2 linked regions of the Homo sapiens genome follow. The protein of the gene in region 1 interacts with the protein of each later gene in a biochemical or structural test. Each region holds a gene or a part of one and is shown on either strand. Other genes may lie near its edges.

What was found.
Region 2: the proteins of CSNK2A2 (region 1) and PTEN form a complex in vitro, tested with the Homo sapiens proteins (2 studies listed by BioGRID, with this or other methods).

The regions. Positions count from the first base shown.
Region 1 is NC_000016.10:58,187,179-58,195,106, forward strand, and holds part of CSNK2A2 (casein kinase II subunit alpha'), read right to left. Parts: intron 1-7,928.
Region 2 is NC_000010.11:87,929,161-87,936,624, reverse strand, and holds part of PTEN (phosphatidylinositol 3,4,5-trisphosphate 3-phosphatase and dual-specificity protein phosphatase PTEN), read right to left. Parts: intron 5,580-7,464; coding exon 5,536-5,579; intron 3,613-5,535; coding exon 3,374-3,612; intron 1-3,373. UniProt on the Homo sapiens protein: Dual-specificity protein phosphatase, dephosphorylating tyrosine-, serine- and threonine-phosphorylated proteins.

The DNA of each region.
Region 1 (7,928 bases):
AAAATATAGCTCTGAACAGCTGTATATCATGCACTCACAAATGGAAAAACTGAAACAAAATGGTGAGACACCTGCTCTTCCAATGAGTTACATGTAATTTTGTCTTTCAGGAGTGAAAGACCAGTTCACTGACATCAGGTTACAAACTTGCTTCCCAGCTGCTGGCTCTCATTTCCTGTCACCACTCCCATTTCCTTAATATCTAGAATCTGAAATCAGCACAGAGCCAGTTAATGTTTTCCAACAGATCCCATTCCTGAAGAAAGAAATGTTGAATCAGGAAAGGAGAAATCAATCTGATACAACAGTGACTGAACACTTCTATCTAACTTTTCAGTCTGCTGGAAAGATTAAAGGCTTTAAAAATAATTACTCTCATTATACATATTACTCCTTGTCTTAAATGAGTTAAAGAGTTTGAAGAAGAATAGAAACAGTTCTGAAAAAGTAAGTCTATCATAATCAAGTATGCTTTATAAGGCACTCAGAATGGTGACCAGAACACAGTAAGCACCTAATAAATGATAGTGTTATTTTCATATTTTTAGTAATTTATTATTTAATAAGTCATTGTGATTCCTCACAAAGTCCTTATGTAGCAGAGTTGAGCTATCTGCCCAAGATCACAGAGCCCATGGCAGAGAGGGGCAGGAATCAAAGCTGGAAGCTGGGCAGTCTGACTGCATGCTATACTCTTGCCACAGTGCTTTTGTTTCCCAAGTGTGGCTAACGGGAGAAACGTAACTAAGGAAAAAAGAGTATTTTATCACTGAGACACTGTTATAATAGCAGAGGCAAAGAGAGGCCAATGGATTTGCCAATAAATAATAAAGCAAGACTTTTTTTGCCTGTGTGTGGGGTGGGGAAGGGGAGGGGAGGGGGAAAATATAACATACACACATGCCAGAGAAACCTTCATCTTTTGTTGGTCACTAAGATACAGCTTTGAACACATAACAAAACAGAGAAGGAGAGGACTATGAAACAAGAGCACTTGCATCACCTATAACAGGGGGCTCAACTGACAGGCTGGGCTCTCGCTGCGTCCTTGTGAGCCAGCTGCCATGATGACACCCGCTCTCCGCCCGCTGTGCCAGGGTTCCCAGGAGAGCAGATGTGGCTGCTGTGCATGTTCCCCGACTCCACTTAGAAACCTTACTCCTTAGTCCCTTTTTCATTAACGAGGGAGCTCGAAACTTTGGGGGAAAAAAGCACTGTACAATCTGATTAAAAAATAGCCAGGGAAGGACACACTACAAAATAACCGGCCTGTAAGATCAAACACGTCAATGTCATTCATGAAACAAACTGATCCAGACTTTTAAAATGTGACAACTGAATGTAACACATGACTACAGCTGAATATCATCATGTAATCTGGGATTTTCCTTTGCTATAAAGAACATTATAAGGATAGCTGGCAAATGTGAATGAGAGCTGTAGATTAGGTAACAGCAATGCATCAATGGTTACCTTCTAATTTTTTAATATGGCATTGTAGGGTTATGTAAGAAACTATTTTTAGGAAATGCATACCAAAGTATTTAGGGATGACTACGATTTACTCTCAAGCACGTCAGGAAGAAATACATAACATAAATGTCATTATATAGGTGTGTGTATATGTACACAAATGTGTGTGTATATGAGAGAGAAAGAGAAGGATAAAACAAATGTTAACATTTGAGGAGTCTGGGTGAAACAGATATGGGAATTCCTGCAACTTTTTTTAAGTCCAAAATTATGTTAAGAAGTTAAAAGAAAAATAAAAACTGGCTTTTTTTTTTTTTTTTTTTGAGACGGAGTCTCACTCCGTGGCCCAGGCTGGAGCACAGTGGCGCAATCTCAGCTCACTGCAAGCTCCGCCTCCCAGGTTCAAACAATTCTCCTGCCTCAGCCTCCCAAGTAACTGGGACTACAGGTGTGTGCCACCACGCCCAGCTAATTTTTTTGTATTTTTAGTAGAGACGGGGTCTCACCATGTTGGCCAGGGTGATCTCGTCCTGACCTCAGGTGATCCGCCTGCCTCAGCCTCCCAAAGTGCTGGGATTACAGGCATGAGCAACTGCGCCCGGCCAAAGCTGGCTATCTTATACTTATAAATTCAGCCAATGCTACCAGTTTAGTCAATGCCTTTCGATATAAGAAAATTCTAGATTTGTCATCCAATACTGGAAAGCAGCTATAGATCTATAAGAGTGGTAACAGAGAGGAAAAAAACCCACAGCCAGAGGCCTATATCCACCAAAAACCCTCTTCTAATTCTAACAGTACTCCTAACTCCTTACAGGCACAACCCATTAGTTGCCTTTATGACGCTGCCCCATGTAAAGTCTTGCATTGGTCTCCGGTTATTCAGCAACAGGTCAGGCCTGGACAACCCAGTTAAGATGAACCTCCCTCTCAATACATCTAAAGGTATCTGGCATAGCAACTGAAGCATATTTTGCTGCCCACCAGGTGTCTAACTTAAACTTCCCAAACTAGAGACTGGGAATAGCAGGGCAACTCTGAAGGTGGCACAAAGGAGTCCCAAGTCACAAAGGCAGCTAGAGTCCTCACATGCAAACAAAATACCAAGAAATGATAAAAAAGGAAGGTGACAGACCCACAGTCCAGGACACTTCCCTCCAAACCATCAAAAACTAAGCTACAGGTAGATCCCTTCAGCCTCAGTTTATTCCTCTGAACTGGAGAGATGCTCGAGAAACTAAACCAATGAGCTCTGAGGAGCTGAAAGTGATCCTTTTAATGTGAATCAGAGATAAAAAGTTAGGATTTATGAGGGAGGATTGTTGGTATCCTAAGGAAAATAAACCTAGTTTTACAGAAATAAGGATGCCTTGACTCTCCTGTCCAGAGCCTGTAGCCATTCACCACCAGTTACACAAAATGGAGAAAATACATATATTTCCACAACGATCTCACAGTTTCACTCTGCATGCTAGAAGAAGTCTCCGTCTGGGGTTCATTTATTCCAATTCAGAGACTATCTGTTTAAAAGATTCAAACTCAATCAGTTTAGCTATTGTCCAAACCAATAAAAAAATTTTTTTTTAACTTGAAATCTAGTAGACAAAGTGGTGAAAAAAAGAACAACTGAACTGACAAATTCAAGACAGGCAGGAACATATCTACAGCTCCTAGCTCTCAAATTTGGGGTTACTTTTACTCTACTACCAAACTAACAAGTGCTCCACCAAGATATTAATTTCATCACCTGCAATGAACAATGGTTGCCAAGAATGTAGAAGGACAGAGTAAAAAGAAAGTTCAGCCTGGATGATGGCACGTAATTCACTACCCTGGTGGCATCCCTAAAACTCACTGCACTTGACCTATATAAAAATATTATCTGAGCAATGTTATTTCATCACAGAAAACTTTTCCTCTAATCTTTCAAGTTTCATCACCCCAATTACATGATCTACTCCTTGAGGGTAACTGTTTACTCTCAGGAGTTAAAAAAAATTATTTAAAAAGGCAAGGCATAAATTCAAAATGATAATCAGATACTATCTCACACAAGTCAGGATAGCTGCTATCAAAAAAACCAGAAAAGAAGTGTTGGCAAGGATGTGGAGAAACAGCCACACTTGTACACTGCAGTCAGAATGTAAAATGGTATAGCCACTATGGAAAGTTCCTCAAAACATTAATCATAGAATTACCTTATGATCCAGCAATTCCACTTCTGGGTCTATACCCAAAAGAAGTGAAGCAGGGTCTTCAGGAGATATTTGTACACTCATATTCAAAGCAGCATTATTCACAATAGCTAAAACATGGAAGCAACCCATCCACTGATGGATGAATGGCTAACAAAATGTGGTATATACATACAATGGAAAATTATGTAGCCTTAAAATGGAAGGAAATTCTGATGCATGCAACAGTGATAAACTTGGAGGACATTATGCTGTGCAAAATAATCCAGCCACAAAAGGATAAATACTGTACAATTCCACTTATATGAGATACCTGGAGTAGTCAAATTCATAGAAACAGTAAGACGGTTGTTGCCAGGAAATGGGGGAGGGAGAAATAGGTAGTTACTGTTTAATGGATAGAGTTTCCATTTTACAAGATGAAGAGTTATGGAGATGGACGGCAGTGATGGTTGCACAACATTACCCACTGAACTGTACACTTAAGAATGGTTAAGATGGTAAATTTTATGTTATTTTATTTTATTTTTTTTTAGACGAGTTTCACTTTTGTTGCCCAGGCTGGAGTGCAATGGTGCAATCTCGGCCAACTGCAACCTCTGCCTCCCGGGTTCAAGCAATTCTCCTGCCTTAGCTTCCTGAGTAGCTGGGATTACAGGCACCCGCCACCATGGCCAACTAATTTTTTGTATTTTTAGTAGAGACGGAGTTTCACCAGGTTGGCCAGGCTGGTCTCGAACTCCTGACGTCAGGTGATCTGCCCACCTCGGCCTACCAAAGGGCTGGGATTACAGGCGTGAGGCACCGCGCCTAGCCTATGTTACATGTATTTTAACACAATTTTTTTTTAAAGGCAAGGCATAGAGCAGACCCTTTGAATCTCATTAGGAGAACACTACAACCCTTTCTACTATTGGTTCTGCCTCTAACATCACTCGCATGACCCAAATGTAATATTGTTATTACTACTATACTTTATTGATCTCTCAGGCCAGGCACTGTTTTAAGCACATTTAACCGTCTTAGATGAGCACTATTAACAGTTTTACTTGAGGAAGGACACCAAGGCACAGAGAACTTAAGTAACTGTTTGACGTCACAGAGCGTCTACAGTTGGAGCTAACACCTGAAACCAGGCAGACCACTTCCTAGGCCATACTCTCTCAGGAAAGAAAAGCATTTTGTAGATTACTAAAACATGACAATCAATCTCTCTACCCATCTATCTATAGTTTATCTGACTTTCCTAACAATCCTGTGACTTAAGCAGGAAATGTATGCTTATTTCATAGATGAGAAAACAGTCAAGTGGGTATCAATGAAGAAACTAGTTCTGGAACTCAAGCCTTCTGCCCTCTCATTTACAGCACTTCCTACACTACACCACCCTGATGATGAGATGGTAGATCCTGAAATTAAACTCTAGAAACTATCTGGAGCCCTGCTTTATACATGAAAATGGGCACACTATATCAAGATATTCTTTTCACATGTGGTTTGCTCTCAAATAAACTCATATATTAAAGGGATAAAACTATTAAACTATTAATCCCGAAATCTGCCAAGTGATCATGCTGAGACTTGGAGGAACTCTATGGGTTAAAAAAAAAAAAAACCATAAAAACACTATTTACTGAGGCTTCAAGAGAATAAAGCAGCATTTCATTGAAGCATTAAACATGCTGCTGTGGATACTAATCATAGAGAACGCCTGCCTGGGTCCCTATAGCCCTCGAGGACTCTTGGATTCCACACTTCAACTAGCAACTTACCAAAGTCAAACACTTCCTTTGAGAAAAATAACTCCAAAAATCATTAGAAACGAATTAACTTCATTTGACTCCTGGTGAGTGTTCCTCAATTCTTCCAGTACAGATCAGGACATCACAAAGTCAAACATCCAGCTAATGTCCTAATTATGCTCCTCGCATCTACCAAGACTTCATGACAGGTACACAAGGTCCTACACCGAGTGCTTCCACCCCCTGACTACATGACGCTGAGCATATACATCCTTTCTCTGGGTCTTGGTTGATTTGTAAAAAGGGCCTGGGTTCTAATGGTTTCTAGGTTTCTAAGTGCCCGCATTCTGCGATTCTGTTTGACACAGGTTAACTACACTCTTAATCTGTGACTCCCCAGTACAATGCTGGAAACGGCCTAGTTCACATATAATTTTTAACATTATTTTTAATGTTAGCAATACTTTAGTGATACTGTTTGCACTACTTTTATACCATGAGACATTAGTGAAAATCAGAATGTACCAAAAACTTAGATAAATACCACTAATGTGTTGTTTCAGGAAGATGTCTTCATACACATGCCTAAATTTAGGAGGGTAAAAAACCTACCACAGGAGAAATAAAGAGGAAATAAAGAGGAAAGCACCATTCTGATATAATATAAAGATCACCAGCTCACGATGAAGCTACTAACAAAGATGTATAACCAATGCCCATCCTTTTAACACTACCTACTGACAACACAGAACTTAAAAAATATCTGCAAGTATGCTAAACATGCTTAAAGAGCAAAATTTTAATACCACCACCCTTTGTTTAAAGCTAAATAATTAATATCTAGGGGAAAATGGATAGTCAATCTGTTTATAAAATAAGACCTCTAAGAGGAAGCCTTATATGGGAATTTCCAAGTCATTTTGCACTGGTTCAAAATGCTGTTTTTTAAAAATAGTGTTGCTCTTAACTTTTATTCAAGAAATAGCAGTTTAATTTGAAAGATCCCAAGGACCCCAAGAAGTACTGAAATCTACACACACAGGCAGTATTCATAAAATGCTAAAAGTTGTCAAAGGTGGCCACTTTTACTTCTGTGTACACTTTTCTAAGAGGTACTACAAAGGAAATGAAGAACTGATTTTTCAAAATCAAAAGATGAAACTTTTGGCACTAATGTAGCTTTCTGCCCTGCCATATAAACGCTTACCATTTTCCTCCTCCTTTTTCTCTTTTCTCCTCAAAACAATTTGTCAAAAAAAGATACAACCTCTCTATTGATTGGAAAGTTTTAAGATTTTAGCCACAGAATACCACTTGGGGATAGACAGTAAAATTTTGCTCACCAGTTTCTAAATTCCTAAAACTTTTTAGCAGCTCATTTTTGATCAATACCTGGAAATCCACTAATGCAAATTAAATGATATAAAATTCCTCTGTAGTCACTCATCATCCACCCATTCTCACATATATTGCAAAGAACTGATACGAAACGTTACTGACTACAAAAGTAAGACCACTTGTCCTCAAGAAAGCCACCCTCTATCTTGGTCACTATGTGCATAATACAATCCTGCAGCTAAAATACAGCAGGCTTTTACAAAAAGGAAGGCTGTTCTAGATTCTTCCAAGTTATGAGGAGCTGGTAGTCTGTTAAGGACCTAATTTCCTATGACCAAGCACCACAATAGTAGCTATTAGTCATAACTTCAACTTATTTGAATAAAGAAACACAACTTTGGCTAAAGACCTTGTTACCCTGTTCTTTTTAAAAAGTAATACTTTTAATTCACAAAACAACAAAACCACAATAATGCCATTAGTGATATATTACCCCATCCTTCAGACAGGAACAAAATCTGGATAGAAATGCCACCGGGCTTTAAAAAACATAAAGAAGTGAGTCTAATTTTCACTAGTGGTTTAGGCTGCACTGTGAAAACAAACAACATCAAGAAGAAACAAGAAACATTTCATTAACTAGGGGCCTCCCAAGTCTGATTCCAGGACACTGGTACCTGTTTCTGTGCTCAACGTTCAGATCCTACAATCCAGTGCTAAAATGAACAGTAAGAGATATGAAGAAATAGGAAACAGGAGTTCTGGCTAATGGTCATTCAACATAATGACATTAGGTAAGTTTCTTTGTGCCTAGGTCTCCCATTTGTAAAGATAACCTGCAGCAGCTTACATACTGGGTTTCCTAACATACGCCAAGAATCTTTAAAGTAGGGGGAAAGCTAGAGCCTATAAAGCTCTTTGGATGATGAAGCAGCAATGCGATGCTCTCCTAAATGAACATGCTGGTATTTATACACACACCTGAATGCTGTTCCTTTAAAAAAAAAAAAGCACCACAGAAAATCATACACTTATTCTAAAAATGCTGCCATAGCACAAAAGTTCAGACATTTTTCTGGAATTGCTTTAGAGTCAGCAATTCATTCTTCTGAATATACAGCAGTGGAATATGGATATTCCTAATTTCAATTTACGTTTTGCTTATTTCTTAGATTTGAAG
Region 2 (7,464 bases), on another chromosome or scaffold:
AGTTAAGTTGGAAAAGCCTAGACCATTACAAAAACTATTTGTTCCAATTAAAAATCATTGATTAAATCATCCTACTAGGATATTGATTGTAATGCTAAACAAACAAAAAGTCACACAGTTGAACAGTGAAGGCAAGTATCTTAGAAAGAGTCAAATATACTTGTAGCATGAAGAAGAATAAGACTGTTGCAATACCTCTATCAAATACTTTTCTCCATTCCAAAAAAAACCCTGACATTAAAAAAACAATAATAAAGTAGGTCACAAAAAGATTGGAAGTACCACCTTTCTTCAGATATGATTTCTCAGTATAGCCGGCTACAAGTTTTCATCAAATGCAAGCATGGTGACACAATCAAGGAAACATTCCCATTTTGGAATCTTTTTGGAAGCTTCAGAAAACATTAACACTTTCAAAATGGTAAAGTTTCTTTACCAAAAAACTTCTCCTGAAGAAACCTCAGTATTCTGTAGGCAGACAGTACACCTTACTGCCAGACAACACATCTGATATTGGGGCACTGGTAAAGACAGAAGCTCTCCATGTCATGGTCACCCACTGCTCTCTTCATCAGTATGCGCTAGGGTGCAAGACTGTCATCAATCCTGAAAGAAATCTTATCTCTTGTTGTGAAAGTATTCTACTGTTTCAAGTGCCAACCCTTGAATAATTCCCTGTGTAAGATGATTTGTCATGAAAAATCCACTATTGTGAAAGCTGCCAGATTCATGAAAGCCAAGACTTTCAATCAAGAGCTTCTCGAGAGGTTTTGTCAAGAAATGGGAGCACTATGAAGTTCTTTGCTATATATAAGTTCCCTGCTTTCAGAAGACAAATTCTACAGCCTGATACTGCTGTTTACAGGATAACATACACTCTTTTTAAACAGTTTAACTCTTCAACCTTGAAAGTAAAATGTGGAGTCATAATCTTTTCTTTCCTAACACAGCATTAATGATACAGATCTTGCCAAAAATGATCTCAGTAACTTGAAGGCAAAGAAAATGATGAAACATGAATTTATCTGAAGAGCCTTGGAGAATTCTTATTTCTTGACACGTCTACTTTCATCAGGCAATAGAATCTACAGATTCCATTTACTCTTCTTTCTTTTGTAAAATAGCATTTTCAGCACTTTTTACCAAAGTCAACACTGATTGGATATCAAAGATCATATAAAAGTTGCAAAGTCAAAGTCAAAGAGCATAGTTTCAACTTGTTATTTTAAAAGTTAAATAGCAGTCTTTTCATTAAAATTTAGTATTGAACAGAACTAAAGCTTAATTTTGGTTAATTTGTACCACTTAGATTTATTCATTGCTCTCATGTAGTAGCCACTGGTTTTTGCATAAAAAAGTGACATAGTTTTCATGAAGGTTCTTTTACATTCTGTCTAAAAGAATATATTTCAATGTAATAAAAACTGCAAAATTTTATGTACACTATGCACATTTTTTGAGGGGAGAACATTTATACCTTCCATCAGACTTTAAAAGGAATGTAACACAATTTAAGACCCCCTGGCTTAAATCTAGTGTTCTGCGCCTCCACATTACAAAATTTTTCTATTTTATTACAAAAAATTTTTTACCTTTTTTTCCACTACCAAAATATATGCTGCTCATCAACTCTGTTTTAAATTTCTACCATCGCTTTTGCTACTGCATTTTTTTTTTTTTTTGAGATGGAGTCTCCCTCTATCACCAGGCTGGAGTGCAGTGGCACAGTCTCGGCTCACTGCAACCTCCACCTCCCGGGTTCAAGCGATTCTCCTGCCTCAGCATCCTGAGTAGCTGGGATTACAGGCACGCGCCACCACACCCAGCTAATTTTTGTATTTTTAGTAGAGATGAGGTTTCACCATGTTGGTTGGCCAGGATGGTCTCGATCTCTTGACCTTGTGATCCGCCCGCCTCGGCCTCCCAAAGTACTGGGATTACAGGCGTGAGCCGCTGTGCCCAGCCTGCATTTTTAATCAGTAAAAGCAATTGTTTCCCTGCAGATGATAATGGGATAAATCAAAGTAAAAATCTTTAGATCCTCAGCTCTATAATTCATGCCAGTGCTATCATTCCAAGGTGCAAACAATATGCAGAAATGTAAGGCAATCTACCATAATCTTCAACATTCACCAAAATTATGCACTAATGTAAGATTCAATTTTGTAAACTATCAACAATAAACAGTATTTCGGCATCCTTATATATAATGCAAAAAAAGTCACAAAGGATAGGAAACAAGATATAAGAGGGGGTAAAGGAACAAGGAATCTATGCAATTACACAGCTTTAAATGATTAATACGATCATTCTATTTCTGTTTTACAGCTGAATTAAGAAGAAATTAGATTAACATGAAGGAGAACTCTCTAAATGAGTTTTTCTATCTATCTGGAGGGGCTTAGGCTTTGTCCTTCTTAGAGATGGAAAAATGTACAAAATCTCTTTGCATTAAATTTTAACATGTTTTGCCATACTTACCACCCAAAGAAATATATCAACAGCAAAATTAAATCACTGTAAAAGTTCTCCCAAGAGTTTTCTTTTTTCTTTCAGATGTACTATAAGAATTAAATTTGTCACTGATTTTTCAATATAGTCCTTAGTTTTCTGATCAAAGAATCGAGAATCTTCTATTAATCTAACTACATTTATGAATATTCTTATAAAAGAATAATTTTTATGGATTATAAAAGTTCACACTTTACTAGGTAATGGTATTTTATCCAAAGGCATTCTATGCTCAAACAAGCTTCAGAAATATAAAGCTTATTTTTGATTAATATGCTTTTTAAAAATGTTATTTTAGAAGAATTTTGTGAGACCAAATCTGCAATACAGTTAATGGGTAACATGTGCTAGTATGATATGAAAATGGTAGCGTGAACAGAAAAATGAAATCAATCAGTCATTTCTCATATAGAAATTGAGGCAGCAACTGATTTAAAAATTTAGAAGAAATAAGGATTAGCAACTATCTTTAAAACCTGTTTTCCAGGGACTGAGGGTGGGGAGGGAGGAACACAAGATGAACAAGATCTGAAGCTCTACTGGACAGCATAGTGACTATAGTTAATAATAACATTGTATAATTGAAAATTGTAGCTTGTAGATCTTAAATGCTTTCACCCTGGGGGGAGAATAATAATTATGTGAGGTGATGAATATGTTAAGTAGTTTGACTGTAGTAATCATTTCACAATGTATATACACATACATCAAAACATCATATTATACATTGTATTTATATATAATTTTTACTTGTCAATTACACCTCAATAAAACTGAAGGAAAAAAAGAAACCCAAAATCTGTTTTCCAATAAATTCTCAGATCCAGGAAGAGGAAAGGAAAAACATCAAAAAATAACTTACCTTTTTGTCTCTGGTCCTTACTTCCCCATAGAAATCTAGGGCCTCTTGTGCCTTTAAAAATTTGCCCCGATGTAATAAATATGCACATATCATTACACCAGTTCGTCCCTTTCCAGCTTTACAGTGAATTGCTGCAACATGATTGTCATCTTCACTTAGCCATTGGTCAAGATCTTCACAAAAGGGTTTGATAAGTTCTAGCTGTGGTGGGTTATGGTCTTCAAAAGGATATTGTGCAACTGTGGTAAAAAGATAACCTCAGAATAAGAAAAAAAAACTCTTGAATTTTTAATTAACAAGTAGGTAACTTTAGAAATGTTGCATACAAACTTAACAGGTATTTAAAAGAAACACTGGATTCCAGAGAAAAATAATGTATTGCTTAACTTTCTAATTGTTAAATAGAAAATAGTCTCTTGATAAGTCTTAAATATAATCATTAAGGAAGCCAGGTATTATTTTCCCCCATTTTATTCAGGAGGATATATTCTGGGAATTTACGCTATACGGACTGGTAGCATAGGTCACATATTAGAGGTAGAGCTAAACCCAAAATGAACTGTCACATGGACATTTCGTCAGGACTCTCAATGCAAAAGGAATAATACTATTTATAGTATTTATTTCATCATCACAAAACATATTCCAAAGACAGAATAGATTACTAATAGGATAAACTATGCAAAGAACTACATATTACATTTCATAAAATAAAAATGCTAAGTGTGTTATTTAAAGGTGGTCTTGCAAATGTTAGTGTTGTATACACATGTAATCATTAGGGAAGCCAAGTATTATTTTCCTCCATTTTCTGCAGGAGAATACATTCTGGGAATCTATGCTCAATGGACTGCAGCATAGGTCACATACCAGAGATATGTGAAGGCATACACCAAAGAAATTACTCACAAAATGTATATAATTGTTATCAAAGTTTCAGGTCTTCTCACATGAATTGTAAGAGTCCAAGACTTCTCTGTTCACTATAGTCAGAGTTGAGGTTTTTAAAAAAACTTGTTTAGAAACAGGACTATAGATATATCACTATTAATTGCTCTTAATAGTTTCTACCTTAGTTCCACTCTATTAAGATCCTTAAAAACCCTGGCTGATATTCAATGTACTAACCTGTGTCATCTAAATATGTGAGAAGTATGTCTTATATCTCCAATCAGGTGACTCATAATATGGTACAGGATATAATCAATTATCCTTTGGTGTGACAGGAGAGATCTTCTGGTAGACAATGACTATCATTATAAGGAGTCAGCAGGACAGCTTTCACTTAGTCATCTGCCTAACTTCATTTTCCCAGTGGTACACAAAAACCTCCAGGAAAATCTGTTAAATATCTGTTTAAAGCAAGATAAACCTCAACTAAAGCCTGCTTTGCTTAGTAAGCAACAGCCTAAATCCACCAAAAACAAAAACAAAAAAAACCCGTTCTTAGTAAACCTATACTAAATCTCAATCATTAGTGATTTAGAATTTTCAAACCATTTGTCTGAAAGTCCATTCTAGATTTTCAGGAGGGATCAATGGCAAATACATCAATAGTAGCTCATGGCACCCACTTTCTTTTTGACTATCACAGCAGCATCTGCCAAGCTTCTCAACTCTTCAGTTTTCTCATGGTTTAAAGTGTTAAGCCATGAGAACTGAGTTGTATTTCACAAATAAAAGTGAAAGTTTTTGTGGGCTCTGAGAATTAACTTATGTCTGAAGTAGAAACTCATTTAAAGCAGTTCCCTCCTCTCATCCATCAGACTCCTCTTATCAACATTTGTTATATCCTTTCCTACCTTTTATGTCATTCCTCAACACAGAAGAGTTAAGTAGTTCTGCTTTCTCCCTGTGATTGCTTACTATTAGACCAACTGCCTCAAATAGTAGGTAAACCCTCTCCTTATACTATTTTTAGTCTAGGAATTTTCCTAATTCTTAGTCTATGCTGCACTTTAGTCTTCCTGACAATATTAATAGCTTTATGCAATACTTTTTCCTAAAACACAACAGTAAAATTAAAATTTTTGAAATTTTTAAAGATAATTCTTAAATATGTATCTCACTCGATAATCTGGATGACTCATTATTGTTATGACAGTAAGATACAGTCTATCGGGTTTAAGTTATACAACATAGTACAGTACATTCATACCTACCTCTGCAATTAAATTTGGCGGTGTCATAATGTCTTTCAGCACAACTAAAAGAAAAGTTTAAAAGTGATATAAAGTTATCTTTTGCACTTAGGAAGAAAAAAAAGTACTAATACTAACAAACATTGCCTGAATCTTTATAATGTGACACATATTATGCTGTGTTTAACATTAATTATTTCATGTAATAACAAGAATTCTATTAAGTAGATACTGTTATCACCCCCATATTATAATAATAAAACCAAAGCTTAAAAGATTAAGTGTATGCAATTAGAGCTAATACATTTGCTTAAAAACTTGTGATGCCACTAATACAGAGTACTGTAAATTCAGGTGCTTCCATGCTTTCAAATTTCCTCTATGAAAAATCTGCATGCTATTGGAATATATTTTTAATTTTACAAGTACCTATAAACAACTGACTAGTTTCAATAGTATCTGTATCTCATAGTTAAGCATACATAATTCTCAAACTATTCTTCAAAAAGATATATGTTAAAAATAGTAAAAGCATAAGGACAGTAAAGAAAAACTGAATGTTGTTAATCTACTTGGCCAAATGCTTACTAATTTTTTTTTAAACCAGACCTTACTCCCTGTTGAAAAGCCAACGATCACCTTTTTCAACAGTCTCTCAGATTGCAAGTTTTAATTACAGTATGAGAGTAATGAAAGAATAAGTAAAATCAATACAGAATAGTAAAATGCTGACTTGTCATTACTAGAGTATGCTAATATTTGTCTTAATAGCAGTGATATGTTAGTATGTACTGGCTTTCTAATGATTAACAGGCCATGTTTACAAACAATAAAAGGCTCAGAAAGAGATCTTACATATCAGTGTGGTTAGCAGTACCCTGGTAACTCCAACTACTATGCAAAACAAATTTTTTAAAAATTACTTAAAATAAACTCTTAGCATTTTAAAACAAATAAAGGTCCATAGCTCCTTAACCTGCAATTTCAATATCCCAAAAGTTCAAAACATCTAAAATTTTCTCTTAAGTTTTATGGCAAACTCAACTACAGCAAATCCTGATCTGAAGTAATAAGATTGTACATAATATTTAATACACTTAGAGCGAAGAGTAAAACATTTCATTTCAGGTACTGACCCACACCCCACTGGGGTGTTTATGTAAAAGTATATTTATCTGTGCTACCTTTTGAAAACTAAAATTTCTGAAAATGGAAACATACTTGGCCCCAAGAGTTTCAAATAAGTGATTGTGAACCTGTATTGTACATTTAGAAACCCTGAAAAACATCTATATAGTTTCTTCTCTACCTTAAAGGTAATTCAAAACCAAATTCACATGAAGGTTTAACTAATTATAAATAAACTACAATCCATTGGTTTCTAACTGGTCAGACCTAAAATAAAACAACTTTCATACTACCACTCAAAACAAAACAAGCTTTTCCTTTTTAGTACAATTTAGTATATTGAGTTTTTCTAGAAAGAAAATGCATTTAGTAATGACATATGCACATATATGCATCCTTGCTAGTAATTTCATACCCACTGACATGAAAAACAGGAAAAAGAGGACTGACAAGACAGTCACATTTTACACTTTCTTTGGTACTTTTAAGATAAAAGGGGAGAAATTGTCAATAGTGAAGAATTCATAATGGAATATTTTATAAGGAATCAGAGATGTAGGACTAGGAAACACAATCTAAGAAGCTGGTCTCAGGACAACACAACAGAAAATAAACATTAGTTTTGTGCAGCTTCAGTTCTCTAAACTTCCCCTACTTTCTCAGGATCCCAGAACATGTGGTTTGACGAACACTCCTTAAGACTGCTTTAATAAAAATGCCTCTCAAATATTACTGTTAAGAGGACTATATGGACGGAAAGTGGAAGTAATGACTACTAAGTGTCAACCAGATGAACACACCTTACAAAGAGTTTCCACTTTT